Linked DNA regions of Homo sapiens: region 1 is linked to region 2. A link means that fine-mapping ties the variant in region 2 to the expression of a gene that starts in the linked region. Tissue or cell type: hypothalamus. Region 2 holds a variant in brackets; the other region holds the start of a gene. All regions are shown on one strand. Distances are between the middles of the regions.

The links. PIP is the estimated chance that this variant, and not a neighbour inherited with it, causes the effect.
Region 1: AXIN1 starts here. The variant in region 2 is fine-mapped to the expression of AXIN1 in hypothalamus (GTEx, PIP 0.97).

What each region holds. Positions count from the first base shown.
Region 1 is chr16:348,614-356,700 of GRCh38, reverse strand. AXIN1 (axin 1) reads left to right here and starts at 3,978. Exons shown (of 11, transcript NM_003502.4): 1 at 3,978-4,332. RefSeq lists silencers at 3,310-3,569, 3,610-4,089, 4,190-4,269, 4,550-4,599, 4,620-4,689 and 1 more and an enhancer at 7,193-7,472.
Region 2 is chr16:310,466-318,554 of GRCh38, reverse strand. It overlaps AXIN1 (axin 1), which reads left to right. Exons shown (of 11, transcript NM_003502.4): 3 at 3,872-4,012. Among named protein-coding and RNA genes, the nearest start is that of PDIA2, 31 kb to the right of the region's middle. RefSeq lists enhancers at 1-304, 305-1,056, 1,057-1,810. The variant G/A (reference allele first, on the strand shown) is at 4,427.

The sequences.
Region 1 (8,087 bases), 38 kb before region 2:
GCTGTCTCCATCACACATCGTACAGCGGCAAACACTCCCCAGCTAATGTCCTTGGGGTGTCTTCCAGGGTTTCCTTTGGGTCATTTTTTATAAGTGGTCTTCCTCAGTTAAATGGATAAACACACTTAAGGCATCAAAACTCACTTTATTATTTTCTTAATTTTTATTTCTTGGAGACACGGTCTTACTCTGTTGCCCAGGCTGACGTGTAGTGGCTCAATCACAGCTCACTAAAGCCTCCAACCGCTGGGTTCAAGTGATCCACCTGCCTCGCGCTCCCGAGTAGCTGAGACCATAGGTGCGCAACACCACGCCCAGCTAGTTTTTAAAAATTGTTTAGTAGAGACAAGGTCTCACTATGTTGCCCAGACTGGTCTTGAACTCCTAAGCTTAAGTGATCCTCTGGCCTTGGCCTCCCGAACTGCTAGGACTACGGGTGTGAGCCACCGTGCCTGGCCTTTTCTTTATTTTTATTTTTTTGAGACAGAGTCTCGCTCTGTCACCCAGGCTGGAGTGCAATGGGGCGATCTCAGCTCACTGCAACCTCTGCCTCCCAGGTTCAAGCAATTATCCTGCCTCAGCCTCCTGAGTAGCTGGGACTACAGGTGTGCGCCACCACGCCTGGCTAATTTTTCTATTTTTAGTAGAGATGGGGTTTCACCATGTTGGTCAGGCTGGTCTCGAACTCCTTACTTCGTGATCCACCTGCATCGGCCTCCCAAAGTGCTGGGATTACAGGCGTGAGCCACCGCTCCGGGCCAGCCACTTTATTTTCAAGGTATTCCTTTTAGGCTGGGCATGGTGGCTTGGGCCCGTAATCCCAGCACTTCGGGAGGCCAACGCAGGTGGATCCCTTGAGCTCAGGAGTTAGAGACCGGCCTGGGCAACATGATGAAACCCTGTCTCTAGCAAAAATACAAACAATTAGTGGGGTGTGGTGGCACACGCCTGTAATCCCAGTTACTCGGGAGGCTGAGGTGGGAAGATCACTTGAGCATGGTAGGTGGAGGCTGCAGTGAGCCAAAATCACGCCACTGGGCTCCAGCCTGGGCAACAGAATGAAACTCCGTCTCCAAAAACCAACAAACAAAAAAACATACCTTTTATGTCTACATTGAAGAAAATAATTCCATGTCTGCTCTTAAGTGTCTCATTTGGTGCCTAGAAACAAAACCTGATTAAATGTCATCTACGGTCAATCAAATAAAAGCCTTCGTGGCAAACTCACGCTCGAAGCAAAGGGCGTTTGCCTCTTCAAGGAGCTCTGTGAGGAAGGGAGGTGGCTGAACCTCACCCTGCACACCACAGGCCCCCGCGCGCCTCCCTGCCCCTCCTCAGGGCCTTCCTCTACCTCTCTTCTGCCTGGCCTGCCTCTGGTCTCCTCCTACCCCCACTAGGCTCAGAGAATCTCCCCTCCACACCCACACCACAACCTACTTTAGAAGGGCTGCTGCATTTCCTCCAGGCTTTCTGACCCCCTTCCTGTCCCTGCAGGGCAGGGGCCCCGAGGAGCTGGAGGCCCAAGGGCCTTGTTCTGGTCCCAGGGCCTGGGGACACCTGCCACCGAGGGCCAAGAGGAGGATGGACGTGGACACAGCCCCGAGAGCCTGGCCCGGACACAGCAGCAGCTCTGCAGAACCAAGGCAAGCATTGGGGACCTTGTTGGGAGTCGGGGGGCAGCCCAGGGGCCAGTGTCTGAGGTCCTGCTGTCTGTCTGGCCACCCAGGACTCCCTCATCCCTGGAAACTGTGCTTTACCATGGAGGCCACCCACTCTGTCTCCTCTAAGGTTCTGAGGCTGAATGGGCTAGGGGGCTTGCGGGGAGGCCCCAGTGTCCAGCACTGTGGGACCTGGCAGGGTGCCTGCGGCCAGGACCCAGCGGGGCCAGGTGTTGGTCTAACAGTGCAGCTTCGTTCATATCCCCAGCCCCTGCCCACCTGCTCTGAGCACAGTGATGGCCCTGGGAGGTGGGCCTGGGCCCTTGGCAGGCTGGGGACAGCCTAGTGGCCCTTGTCCCATGCTACCCCCTTTCCCACACAGCGATGCTGGCATCAGACACCATGCTGAGTGCTGGCAGGGGCGAGGGCTGGGAGGCTTCCACACATGGTTCCCCATGCAGTCCCACCTGTGGGCATCTGGTTGGGGGTAGGCTGGAAGCTCGGGGAGCCTGGAGCTGGGACTTCTGTGCTTGCCTGGGAGCTCTGAAGGGTGAGGCTGGGCATCCAGGGTGACACAGCCCAGGGAAAGACATGGGGGTGACGTGAGAGGTGCCTGGAGGGAGCTGGCAGGTATGGACATGATGGACACGGAAGCACGGAGGCGGGCAAGTGGCCAGACGCATCTAGGGGAAGGTGTGGGGGAGGCGCCCTTAGGAAGGGCCCTGAAGGGCTGTGGGCAGCAGGGAGCCCTGGGAGGCCTAAAGCAGAGGGCAGATAGATGAGGGCTGTTGTCTCAGGTGTGGGGCGGACGAGGTGGGGAGCCCTCACCCAACAGGAGGCGAGCTGGTCCTGTGTGGCCTGAACTGCAGCTGTCTCCTCTGTGAAACGGGGGTATAGCTGACCCCAGGGGGCTGCCTGGAGCATCCCGGGAGGTGCCAGGCCCAATAGTGCTCTGGGAAGGACAGGGCCCTGGGCTGTTGTGGGAGGCGGCAGATCCTGGTACTCACATCCTCCTCCTTGGGGAGGGCCTGATGGTTGGCTGAGGCCTGGGTGGAGAGCAGAGGGTTGGTTCTGACAGGGTTGGGCTGGCCAGAGCTGGTGCTGGGGCTGCTGCTGGGGGCCCGTGCCTCTCTGCCGTGGGGTGCCTGGGGCTGTGACCTCATGCTCTGTGGCCTGCAGGGCAAGTGACACGGATCTGGGCAGCCAGGGTGGCAGGATCGGACTGGACCCCTTGGCAGGGCCGCTGTGGAGACAGCCCAGGGGAAGGGGTGCAGGGGTCTGGACACTCCAATGGCCTTGCTCTCGGGCTGGCCTGGGCAGCGGAGGGAAGGAGAACCCTTCTCTGATACTAGATGGTGCCTGGGAGAAATCAAGGCAGAGGGTCCTAGCCGGTGGGCTCTTTGGAGGTTGTGGCTCCTGTCCGGGTGAGAGCCACCATATATTGGGGCCTAACGTGTTCCCTGGCGCTGTGAGTCCAGGCTGCCTTGGGACTCAGGAGGGTGGAGCCCACCCCACCTTCCAAGGGCCCTGGCCATCCCTGCCTGCCGACCACCCCACTCCTGGGAGCCTGCTTCCCTCACGGCGGCGGGCAGGCCGTGGCGGTCCCCACGAGGGCCTCCTCTCCAGGGCCGGCTGGGCAGGGAGCCCCGAGGCCTGCAGCCCCCTGACTGCCCTCCGATGTACTGGCGGCAGAAAAGGGCTGCGCCCCACGTGCGCCCTTCGGGGCGCGCAGTCCGCCCAGTGCTCCCCACGGCCGCGGCCATTCCAAGGACCTGCAACGCCGCCTCTCCCACTCCGCTCTCTGGGAAGCCAAAGCCTCCCGGGCTCCGCTTCCGCACCGCCCCTCGGGAAGACGGCGCGACCGCGCCCCCGGCACGCCCCGCCCCCGGCAGGCACTGACCACGCCCTCTCCCGGCCATGCAGAGACCCCGGCCCATGTTTCTCAACTCGTCTTCTCGCTTCCGGCCCCGCCCCGCGCCGGAGGCCCCGCCCCACGCTCTTTACCTCTTCTGCTCGAGGCGGGCCCCGCCTTACTCCCTGGTCCCCGCCCCACGCCCGAGGCCCCGCCCCGAGCTCTTCACCTCGTCTTCTCGCTTCCGGCCCCGCCCACGCCCCGGCCCCGCCCCGCGCTCCTCACCTGTCCCCTCGCTGTCGGCCCCGCCCCACGCTCCTCACTTTATCCTCGCGCTTTCAGCCCCGCCCCGCGCCTGAAGCCCCGCCCCACACCCTTTACCTCGTCCCCGCGCTGCCGGCCCCGCCCCGTGTTGAGGCCCCGCCCCGCGCTCTCACCTCGTCCCCGCGCCCCGGCCCCGCCCCCGCACTTCCGGACGCCGCCGGCGGGGGCGCTCGGGCCTGGGCTTCGGCGCTCTGGCTCGGGCTCTGGCTCGGGAGGCGATCGTGGCCGCTGCCGCCGCCAGAGCCGGCCGGAGTCGGCCCGGAGCCGCGTCCACGCGGAGCGGGCGGGTGGGAGCTGGCGGCTGGGCCCCTGCGGCGCCCCCGCGGCCTGCCCCGCGTCCGCCTCCGGGCCGCCGAGCCGCAGCCGCCGAGATGGGGGCCGCCCCGGGCCGCGCCCCCGCCGGGTCCCGCCCGCCGCGCTGCCGCTGAGCGCATGGGCCCGGACCGCGCCGCGCCGCTCCGGGAGCCGGGCCCGGGGTCCCGCCACCACCGCGCGCGGGTGAGTAGGGCCGGGCTCCGGGGCGGGCTAGGCCGCGGTAGGCCGGGCGGGCGGGACCCGGAAGCGGCGGGGGGCGCGGGTGGCTGACGCGCGTGGGACCGAGGGGGTGGGCGCGCGGGGAGCTGGGGCCGGGGTGTCCCTGGGCAGCGGGACTGGCGGCGCGGTGGCCGCTTGGAGGTCCGAGGCCTCGGGCGCGTCTCGGGGCACGGAGCAGCTGCAGGGGCCGCGCATCGCGTGCGGGGGCCCGGGAGAGCCGGGCCTGGAGCCCTCCCCGCCGCCCAGAAGTCGGCGGGAGTCCGGCTGTCCCGGAGGAGGACACTCCCGCCCGCCCTCGCCGAGGCCGCGTGCCGGGTCCGGGTCGGGGTTCGGCCTGAGTAGCCGCGTGCTCCGGCGTCCGTACCCTCCAGGTTGATGCCTTGCTGCCCAAACACTGGTCTTTCTCTTGGGTGTGGTTCTTAGATTCTACCCCCGCCCCGCACTTTGGAATTTAGCCCCCGTGAAACCAGAGCTGCACTGCCCGAGCAGTGAAACTTTCAGCTTGGCATTGAAGAAAGTAGAGAAAAACATGTCAGTTCTCTGGGGATTTTTCTCAGCCCATCTATAAGATATATATATATATATTTTTTGTAGAGATGGGGTGTCACTATATTGCCCAGCAGGTGTTGAATTCTTGGCCTCAAGCGATCCACCTGCCTCAGCCTTCCAAGGTGTTGGGACTACAGGGGTGACCACCGTCCTCTAAGATAATTTTTTTTTTTTGAGACGGAGTCTCGCACTGTAGCCCAGGCTGGAGTGCAGTGGCGCTATCTTGGCTCACTGCAACCTCCGCCTCCCGGGTTCAAGCAGTTTTCCTGCCTCAGCCGCCTGAGTAGCTGGGATAACAGGCATGCGCCACCACATCCGGCTAATTTTTGTATTTTTAGTAGAGACAGGGTTTCACCATGTTGACCAGGCTGGCCTGGAACTCCTGACCTCAGGTGATCTGCCCACTTTGGCCTACCAAAGTGTTGGGATTACAGGCGTGAGCCACCGCGCCTGGCCCCTTCTAAGATAATTTATAAAGGGTTCTTATGTGCATGTCAGCCCCTTGTTTTTGCTCACACTTCTGTTCTCTGCTTCTTCAGGAAGAATCTCGAGCTTACTTGGATCCACAGGCCCTATTTTGGAGAAAACACAGTCTAAACCGGCTACCCGAGATACTCAGCAATAGCTCGGTTTCAGTTTTTTTTTTTTTTTGAGACAGAGTTTTGCTCTTGTTGCCCAGGCTGGAGTCCAATGGCGTGATCTCCGCTCACCGCATCCTCCGCCTCCCAGGTTCAAGCGATTCTCCTGCCTCAGCCTTCCCAAGTAGCTGGGATTATAGGCATGCGCCACCAAGCCTGACTAATTTTGTATTTTTAGTAGAGATGGGGTTTCTGTATGTGGGTCAGGATGGTCTTGAACTCCCGACCTCAGGTGATCCGCCCACCTCGGCCTCCCAAAGTGCTGGGATTACAGGCGTGAGCCACCTCACCTGGCTTTGGTTTCAGTTTTAAGATCTCCATTCAGGGACAAGGATGGGAAAGCATGAAAAACAGACTGTTTTTGTTTGATTTTCAGCTGGTGTTGACTTGTCTTGGGTTTCTAGTTTCAGAAAAGCTAAGCAGACTTTTTCGGATTACATTGGTCATTGAGAATTTCAGTGATGGGGGAATAAATTACATGTGAAATAGTAGCCCTGAACCTTCAAGAGTTAAATCAATGGACAGCTGGGAAGATGTCAGAGTCGTGTTGTGTTACTTGCCTCCTCCATGTAAATCAAAATGTCAAAAGTTACGTTTGGGTAAAATAAATACCTACACACGTAGGTAGCATTGAGTTTGCTGCCATGATGCCTGGAGCATATGCCTAAGCGGTGACGAAAGGGAATTTTAAATACAGTATCATACTTGTAGGCATCCCGCCCGTTTTATGGACTCACTTTATTGATGGTAGCTACAGGCTGTGGGCCAGATTCAGTGCTTGCAGGCATTTGATACTGAACTGAGTAAACGTGACTGCTTTATGTGTGGTGTGTACTTGTGTGTACACTAAATGCTTGGTGTGCTTCCCTGTGGGAACCCAGAGATTTCAGGAATTGGGACATGTTTCAACAACATCAGTAGCTTGTAGAGGGGTTCATGTGCTTCCAGGGACACCAAAAAGTCTTCTGTCAGTTGACAGCCAAAAATACACATGATTGTAAGAAAATTTTCTTCTGGGCTCTGAAAATTTGGTTCACACATGAATTAAAACATTAGTTTTGGGGCCAGGCAAAGTGGCCTGTAATCCCAACACTTTGGGAGGCCGAGGCGGGTGGATTGCTTTGAGCTCAGGAGTTTGAGACCAGCCTGGCCAACGTGGTGAAACCCAAAATACAGTAATTAGCCGGGCGTTGATGACTCGTGCCTGTAGTCCCCGCCACTTGAGAGGCTGAGGCTGGAGAATTGCTTGAGCCTGGGAAGCTGAGGCTGCAGTGAGCTGAGATCGCCCCACTGCAGTCCAGCCTAGGCGACAGAGCGAGACCCTGTCTCAAAATAACAAAAAACAAAACAACAAAACCCATTAGTTTTGGAAGAATTTGCTGCTGTTTTCTGTGGTACAGTAGTTCAGCCCCTGTAGAGAGCCAGTGTTTGGCGTCTGTGACAAATGTCTTTTCTTTTTTACATCAGTGAATGACTTACTGGTGCCCGTTAGTTGCAGGACCTTGTGCTGGGTGCTGTGGGTCCCGCTACTACCAATAATTAACACAGAAGACTTAAGTCCCTTATGAGAGCATGATGGTGACTTGTGGTTAGCCTCCCTTCTGAGCACTGTCTGATTAATCACTTTCCACTCTCCGGTGACTTGGTTCTTCAAGCTAGTGAATGGTAGTACATCTATAGTGGTAAGGCTCAGGTGGTCAGGGTGCAGGCCTTCTTTCCTGTGATGGCGTCCCAGACAGATGACCGTGAGCTAGTGTGGAGGTGCCCACGCCCAGGGTGCTCCCTCCATGCTGATGTGGCTCACGGAGTGACTGCCGCTGAAGTGGTCTGTGAGCAGCAGGATGTCACAGCTCACTGGGCCTTGACCTTTAGAAGCTGTGTGTTCCTGCTGAGGCCAAGATGACATACTACCCAGCAGCGTTCACAAAAAGTCCTTAGCTGCTGAAATGTCATTGGGGGCACATAGTTGCAAACCATCCTCCATCTATGGGTGCTTCTTATTTATTTACTAATTTTATTTTATTTTATTTTATTTTATTTTTTTGAGACAGAGTCTCACTCTGTCGCCCAAGCTGGAGTGCAGTGGCCGGCGCGGTGTCGGCTCACTGCAAGCTCTGCCTCCCGGGTTCATGCCATTCTCCCACGTCAGTCTCCCGAGTAGCTGGGACTGCAGGTGCCCACCACCATGCCTGGCTAATTTTTTGTATTTTTAGTAGAGATGGGGTTTCACCGTGTTAGCCAGGATGGTCTCGATCTCTTGACCTCGTGATCCGCCCGCCTTGGCTTCCCAAAGTGCTGGGATTACAGGTGTGAGCCACTGTGCCCGGCCTATTTTTTTTTTAGAGACAGGATCTTGCTCTGTTGCCCAGGCTGGAGTGCAGTGGGGTGCGATTATAGCTCACTGCAGCCTTGAACTCCTGGGTCAAGTGATCCTCTTGCCTCAGTCTTCCAAGTAGCTGAGACTACAGGCATACGCTACCATACCCGGCTAATTAAGAACTGTTTTTTGGTAGAGATTGGGTCTCACTATGT
Region 2 (8,089 bases):
TCGCATCTGCTGGTAGTGAAGGCCAAGCCCGGCCGCCTGTGTCTTCAGGTACAGGAGCCATCTGAGTGCTGAGGGCAGATCCTGAGAGCCAGGGCAGTTGTCTGGGATTGTTACGAAGATCAATAGTAAACAGGCTGCCCTTCTTCCTTTTCTTTTCTCCCAGCCGCCTTCTCCCGCTTCTCTCCCCTTTGCTGCCTGACCTTGGTGCTTGTGTGCAGTGGAACTTGCTGTGTGCTGGAGCTTGTGGAAAATGGGAAACCTGCGTTTCTCCTGCTTCTCATTTTAAAGACAAACAGGTTTTCCAAAAATGTGAAAGGCACACCTGGGAAGTCAGAGTGGGAGAAGGATTTGGAATTGGACACATGAACACAGAAGGCTTCGTTCTGCTGTATGTGGCTCCCAAGTGACGGGACAGGTGTGAGCCCCATGGCAGCATGAGGGCAGGGCACGTGCTTCCAGTGCGTGCCAAGACAGACACGCCATGTGCCGTGGGCTACAGACGCGCCGTGTGCTGTGGGCTACAGACGCACCAAGTGCCGTGGGCTACAGATGCACCCGTGTGCCGTGGACGTAGACTTCTTAAACTTCTGTGCGGCAGTGGCCTTCTCTCTTCCATTTGAAATGTTTTTATTTGGCCAAATAGATGTTTATAGAAAGTTACCAAAGTTCAGTGTTCCTTCATAGTAATAGGGAGACTTTAGTACTTAACCTGAGATCTGAGGTTGGCTGCAGTGGTTGTTACAGTGATAATATCAGTAGCTGCTGAGCAGCTGTGGCTTTAAGTATCAAAGGAATAATGGTGTCATTTATAAATACTGCATGATGCTTAAAGCAAAGAGCCTGAAGCTGCAGGCTGGTATCATTTTATCTGCTCTATGTCAGGTACAGAGAGGAGACGAGGAGTGAACCAAACTTACAAAGCCCAGCCACCGGTGGTCGGTGTTTCCAGAGAACCCATTTCCCAAGAGCGGCCCCATGGTTGCTGTCAGCCTGAGGCTGCCGTCACCTGGCCGTGACTGTCTGTGGCCTGCAGTGAGCGACCAGGCCACAGTGGGTGGGTCAGAGGGACTCGTGGACATCGGCCCTGGCAGGGGCCTGACATCGTGAACCGTGTTTTCCATTGTGGCATGGGGTCCTGCACCTGCCTCCCGAGCAGCTGAGCACGGTCACCAGCACTGTTCGTATGAAAGGCCCTGCTTGTGTGTTCTGGCCCCATGCGATACCCTCCAGAGGGCATGGAGGCCACAGCCCCAGGGGAAATGGCCCCGTGCAGCGAGGCCCTGCCCAGCACCGCCACAGGCTGTCCCCAGCTCGCAGTGCTCGCTCATCTCCCCAGGCATCCCATGTCACCAGAGTCCAAGGTGCTGGGCTGCCTGCCCCCCTCCCATCTTGTCAAAGGGCCTTTCCTGGTGTAAGTAGAACTGGGGCTTTCCCTAGGTTCTGTTCATCAGGTGGATGGCTGGAAGCTGCGCTGGTCCCTCCCTCCACACCAAGGACTCTGATGCGCAGGTGTGCTTGCACCTCCGACATGGCAGTTCCTCCGGCCATGTGCACGTGGAGGGCGGCCCATTGTGGTAGCCTTGGGAGGTGTCTTGGTTATCTTGTGTCACTGTGACCTGTGGAGATCCAACTGAGGTAGTCATCACCCCTCGGGGGACACATTCCAAGACCCAGGTGGAGGCCTGAAATGCGATAGTACTGAACCCTGTATATACTGTTTTCCCCTCTGGGAACACACCTCTGATCAAATTTAACTTACAAGTTAGGCACAGTAGAGACTAAAAAAATTGTGAATCAAATGGAATGATTGTAAGGGTGCACTGTGATAAACCCCCTGTGAGGCTGACGACTGTCAGGGTGCAATGTGATAAACCCCCTGTGAGGCTGACGACTGTCAGGGTGCACTGTGATAAACCCCCTGTAAAGCTGGTCTCTTTCTCTCGCAGTCTTACCGCTCTGTGCGCACCTAGTTTCAGACCTTGGCTGAACGCAAGTAACTGAAACTAGGGAAAGCAAAGCCGAGTGGGGGCAGCCGCTAGAAGGAAGGGGCAGCCTCAGGGCACACTGTGGGGCTTGGCAGTTAGGGACCCTGCAGAGTCCACATGCCAGTTGGTTGGCAGCACAGCAGAGCGCCCGGAAGGGGCACATGCCTTTGACAGGAGTTAGATGTGGTGGAGAGAGGCGCTTAAAATTATTGAGGACAAGATGGGTTATTTGGTATTTAATGCTAACAGCTGTATCTCCATTTTGATGTGAAGGAGTGAGCTAGATTTTATTTATTTTTTATTATTTTATTTTTTACCTTTAGGCTCTGCTGGACTGGCCTAGATTTTGTATACACACATTTCAGGTGAAGGTCTAAAAAAAACTGGAGCATATAAAGAAAAATAGAATATATGTGTAATTCTGGAATAAGGAAGGACTGTGTTTCCAAAATAGAAAATAAATAAATAAATAAAGGAAAAGATTGGAATATCTGATTGATTTATTTATTTTATTTTTGAGACAGAGTCTTACTCTGTCGCCCAGGCTGGAGTGCAGTGCTGCGATCTCAGCTTACTGCAATCTCTGCCTCCCGGGTTCAAGCGATTCTCTTGCCTCAGCCTCCCAAGTAGCTGGGATTACAGGTGCGTGCCACCACACCTAGCTAATTTTTGTATTTTTACTAGAGATGGGGTTTCACCATGTTGGTCAGGCTGTTCTTTTTTTTTTTTTTTTTTTTCTTTTGAGACAGAGTCTTGCTCTGTCACCCAGGCTGGAGTGCAGTGGCGTGATCTCAGCTTACTGCAAGCTCCGCCTCCCAGGTTCACGCTATTCTCCCGCCTCAGCCTCCGAAGTAGTCTGGGACTACAGGCGCCCGCCACCACGCCCAGCTAATTTTTTGTATTTTTAGTAGAGACGGGGTTTCACTGTGTTAGCCAGGATGGTCTCGATCTCCTGACCTCGTGATCTGCCTGCCTCGGCCACCCAAAGTGCTGGGATTAAAGGCATGAGCCACCGCACCCGGCCTGTCTGATTTCATAGAAATGAAAAATTTTGTTTGACCAAAATCAACCTGAGCAATGTTAAAAAGAAAAATGACATTTAGGGAGAAAATGTTTTTTGCGTATATAACCAGAGATTAATAACAAGTCTATTTGAAGACTTCTGTAAATCACCAAGAAACTCATAATCCACCCCATAGAAAATGGTAAACCATATGAACAGATAAAGAGGAAGAAGTTTAAATGACAAATACGCTAAACTGCCAATCTGACCATTAATCAGGGAAGTGCAGATTGAAAAAAGGTGTCATTTCCTGGCTAATTTTGCAGTAACAAGAGGAGGTGAATCGTCCCAGGAGCTGGGGAGGAACCTCTGCTCTAGGTAGGGGGACAGGAGGTGGCACCACCCACACACACTGTCACATACCGGCCCTGACATCAGTCCCGTGGCCATGCTTGGACTTGGGCACAGGTGCAGAGACGTCTGAGCTGAATCCCAAGGGCCTCATCCTGATCAAAACCCAGTGTCCTCTCCCGACGCGCACTGCAGAATGAGCAGAACATCTGCGTCCCATTTCTAGTACCGTGCACGGAAAACAAACCCAAATGATCACGTGTGGATGCTCTGTGTGTGCACCAAAGCCCCCGCCTAAAATCAGAGGAGAGATCTGGAAAGATGCCCGGTGCTTTAATGCACCCCGTTGAAAAGGACAGAGGGACAAGAGGACAGGTGGAGATGTTGGTCTTTTCTCCATGCTCCTTATTTTCTCCAAATTGCTTGTGTTTTTAATTAATACATTGAGATATTCAGATAACATGAAAATGTGAAATAAAATGAGAGGCTGTTGGCAGGCTGTCACTAACATGCCCTGCTTGCCTGTTTGCAGGTATGGATCCTGGCGGGAGCCAGTCAACCCCTATTATGTCAATGCCGGCTATGCCCTGGCCCCAGCCACCAGTGCCAACGACAGCGAGCAGCAGAGCCTGTCCAGCGATGCAGACACCCTGTCCCTCACGGACAGCAGCGTGTAAGTCCCGCCCCGGATACCCAGTCCCTCACGGACAGCAGTGTGTAAGTCCGGTCCCAGACACCTTGTCCCTTGAGGACAGCAATGTGTAAGTCCTGCCCCAGACACCCTGTTTCTTGCGGATGGCAGCGTGTAAGTCCCACCCTGCTGCAGAGCGCGGCCAGCTCAGAGGGGGCTTCGTGCTGACCCAGAGATGCCTGGGCTTTGTCTTCAGGAAAAGTGTTTCCTGGCTCCCCAGGTCTCAGTGAGAGTGCGTCTGGACATGCAGGCAGGCTGTACCGCAGAGGCTGTCCTCCAAGCAGTACAAGTGAGGGCTCAGCTTTGTGTCGGTTGCTTCTCTCTGTGACCAGGGCTGCTGGGACCTCCCTATGAGGAAGGATCGAGGGTGAACCTAAGACAGTCTGTAGGCTGCCC[G/A]GGCTAGAGTTTGCTCTTTGGTTTTCAGAGTCTGGGGTTTCAGCTTAAAGACAGGCACAGGCCAGCTGCCTCACCACTGGCTGTGGCGAGTGATGTGGTCCCTGAGGGTGGCGTTTCTGCCGACGCTGGTGCAGTACAGGGTCCTGTCTTGTCCCTGTCACCCACTTGGCAAGGGGCTGGGAGCAGGAGTGAGGGAAGATGCTGTGGTTGTGCTGAGGCCTGGGCCACACATGTGTGACGCTCGAGGTGACAGGCAGAAGCTTATTCTTTCATTGTCCAGGGAAACCCCATGTGTAGGAACGTGCTTGTTTTATGACCTCTTCCCCTGTGCTTCGCAGCTGGCTTTTTGGGACCTATGTACACCCCAGCCATTAGATGATGCCAACAGTCTTGTTGCAGTAGGGCACTGGCTGCCAGCCTGTGGGGGTCATTTGGGGTTTTGGTTACCCATGAAGCTCAGACCTTCCCAGCTCTGGTCTGTGCGCCACACGCCACCTGCCCACCAGCCATCCTAGCCAGGGCTGGGGCCGAGCCGCAGGAACCAGGGTCTCCCTGCAGCAGCCTCAGCATTGGAGGAAGCCAGCGGCTATGAACTTGTGAGCAGCTGGAGCCCGCGGACCACCACCCTCCATCCCCACTGCGGCCAGTGGTGTCCCAGATGTCTTTCCCGCTTAGCTGGGTTCTCCATGAGGAAAGCCTGGAGATCTGGATAGGGCTGGAGGAGGAGAGAGGGACTTCTCACCTACTGGTGATTCTGCCCATCTTTTTATGAATATGTTTTAAGTGATGGTCCCACTGTATGTACCATTTTTATGGTTCTTTTCATTTTGAGACAGGATCTCACTGTCACCCAGGCTGGACTGCAATGGTGCGATCTTGGCTTACTGTAGCTTCTGTCTCCTGGTCCCAAGCAATTCTGCCTCAGCCTTCAGAGTTGCTGAGGCTACAAGCGTGCGCCACCACGCCTGGCTAATGATTATTATAATTTTTGTGGAGACGAGGCCTCACTATGCAGTCTCGAACTCCGAGGCTCAAACGGTGCACCCACTTCAGCCTCATGAGTGCTGGGATTACGGGCATGAGCCACTGCATCCGGCTGATGATGATGATTATTTTTGTGGAGACGAGGCCTCACTATGCAGTCTCCAACTCCTGGGCGCAAACTGCACCCACTTCAGCCTCACGAGTGCTGGGATTATGGGCATGAGCCACTGTGCCTGGCTGGTTTGTTCTTTTCATTTGCCTGTCTTTAAACATTTTTCCAAAACCTGAATTTCAGATGAGGAGAACAAGTTGTCACATTCTGTTTCTGAACCAGATTCAGCCAGCCCACATTGCCGTAGGTCTTGGCCCCTTGGTTTTTCCCCAGGTAGCTGTGGTAGTGCAGGGGCAGCTCCCTGCCCCTTCCGGGCAGAGCTGCTGTGTGTGGCTTCTCCTGGTTTCTTTCATCCTCGTTTAATTTTGAATCTTCAAAATAAAATGTTGACGTGATTTTAGCAGCACCTGACTTGAGGTTACTGGAGTTGAAGCAGTGCCTGCCGTGGTCCTGAAGCCTCGGGCCAGGTGGTTGGGTGCAGTGCAGCCCACGGAGCGCCTGACATGCATCCTAGCATCTGGTTTCCCTCTTCCCCAAAACTCTGTTACTACAACAAAAAGTAACCTGCCAACTCAGTTTTCTCAAAAAGTCTCCTAATTCTCTCCAAGAAAAGGGACATATGTTTCCTAAAGGGAGGACCTAAAATAAATAGGTATTTTTTTTCTTGATATTCTGTTCATCTTGGTTTGTACTGAAGTGTTTAACAATTTGGAATGTGAAATTGCTACACGTACTCGAAAGCAAATCAGAGGTAAAAAGTGGACAGGTGAAGAGCATCATTCCGGTGGGGCAGCTGCCCTCAGCTTTTGTGCTGGCGGCAAGCTCACAACATTCCACATGGCACTCGAGAGGCTGTGGGCTGTGGACACAGATGTGGGGTCAGTGTCTAATCCACGGAGGCCTGTGGAGGTTACCCAATCCAAGTATCATGTCTAAGAAACCAGTAGGTTGGTGGCTTCAGGACACTTCAACAAACCCCGAGGCAAGTGTTAGGTGAGTTTTAGATTCACTTGTTCCTGACGCCCACCGTGGCTGAGCCAGACCTGGACTCGGCTCACCATTGCCCACAACACTCAGTGGTGCTGTGACAGCCGAGGATGCCTCAGGAGTTGCCGTGTCTGCCACGCAGCCCTGGGTCGGGCGCTCTCTTCAGTCGTCCTGTGTCTCCTGGCAGCTCTGAGAGGCCCCTGGGTGCGGCACGGATCCCTGGAGCTGCCGTGCTTCCGAAGGCAGCTTTTCTTTCTTTCTTCCTTTTCTTTTTTGAGACGTAGTCTTGCTCTGTTGCCCAGACTGGAGTGCAGTGGCACAATCTCGCCTCACTGCAACCTCCGCCTCCCGGGTTCACGCCATTCTCCTGCCTCAGCCTCCCGAGTAGCTGGGACTACAGGCACTCGCCACCACACCTGGCTAATTTTTTGTATTTTTAGTAGAGACGGGGTTTCACCGTGTTAGCCAGGATGGTCTCGATCTCCTGACCTCGTGATCCGCCCGCCTCGGCCTCCCACAGTGCTGGGATGACAGGCATGAGCCACTGCGCCCAGCCCGAAGGCAGCTTTTCTAATAGCTGGGAGAGGGCGAGGGCTTTCATGAAGGATGGTTGTGCGTGAGTTATCTTAACCCTGGGGTAATTATTCAGACCATGTATAATCTGACTTTCGTGTTTTAATGATCTTCTAAAGGGTTCATAAAGAAAACCTGTTGCGGGCTGGGCGCGGTGGCGCATGCCTGTAATCCCAGCAGTTTGGGAGGCCGAGGCAGGCGGATCACGGGGTCAGGAGATTGAGACCATCGTGGTTAACACAGTGAAACCCCGTCTCTACTAAATAATACAAAAAATTAGCCGGGCGTGGTGGCGGGCACCTGTAGTCCCAGCTACTCGGGAGGCTGAGGCAGGAGAATGGCGTGAACCCGGGAGCGGCTTGCAGTGATCCGAGATCGCGCCACTACACTCCAGCCTGGGCGACAGAGCAAGACTCCGTCTCAAAAAGAAAAAAATAAAAGAAAACCTGTTGCTAAAGAGCTACCTTGTGCCTCCCTCAGAGACCACACTGCCCTGCCAGCTCCTGGAGAGAAGCAGAGTGTGCAGCCTTGGCATCTCCTATCTTTCCGTGGGGCACTGGTTGTCCTGGCTGCCCACTGTGCAATCCTGAAATGTTTTTGGTCCATTTAGCAATGCCCTCCAAGGCAGGCACACTGCACAGTGGTCTAGGCCACAAGCAGGGGCCAGCAAACGTTTCCCGTGCAGGGCTGGCAGTGAATATGTGAGGCTTTGCAGCCGCATGCAGTCCCTGTCACAGATTCTTCCCCCACCCTTTAAAAATGTAGAAACCTTGGCCGGGCGCCGTGGCTTGCGCCTGTAATTACTCCCAGCACTTTGCGAGGCCGAGGCGGGCGGATCACGAGGTCAGGAGATCGAGACTCTCCTGGCTAACACAGTGAAACCCCGTGTCTACTAAAAATACAAAAAAATTAGCTGGGCGTGGTGGCGGGCACCTGTAGTCCCAGCTACTCAGGAGGCTGAGGCAGGAGAATAGCGTGAACCCGGGAGGTGGAGCTTGCAGTGAGCC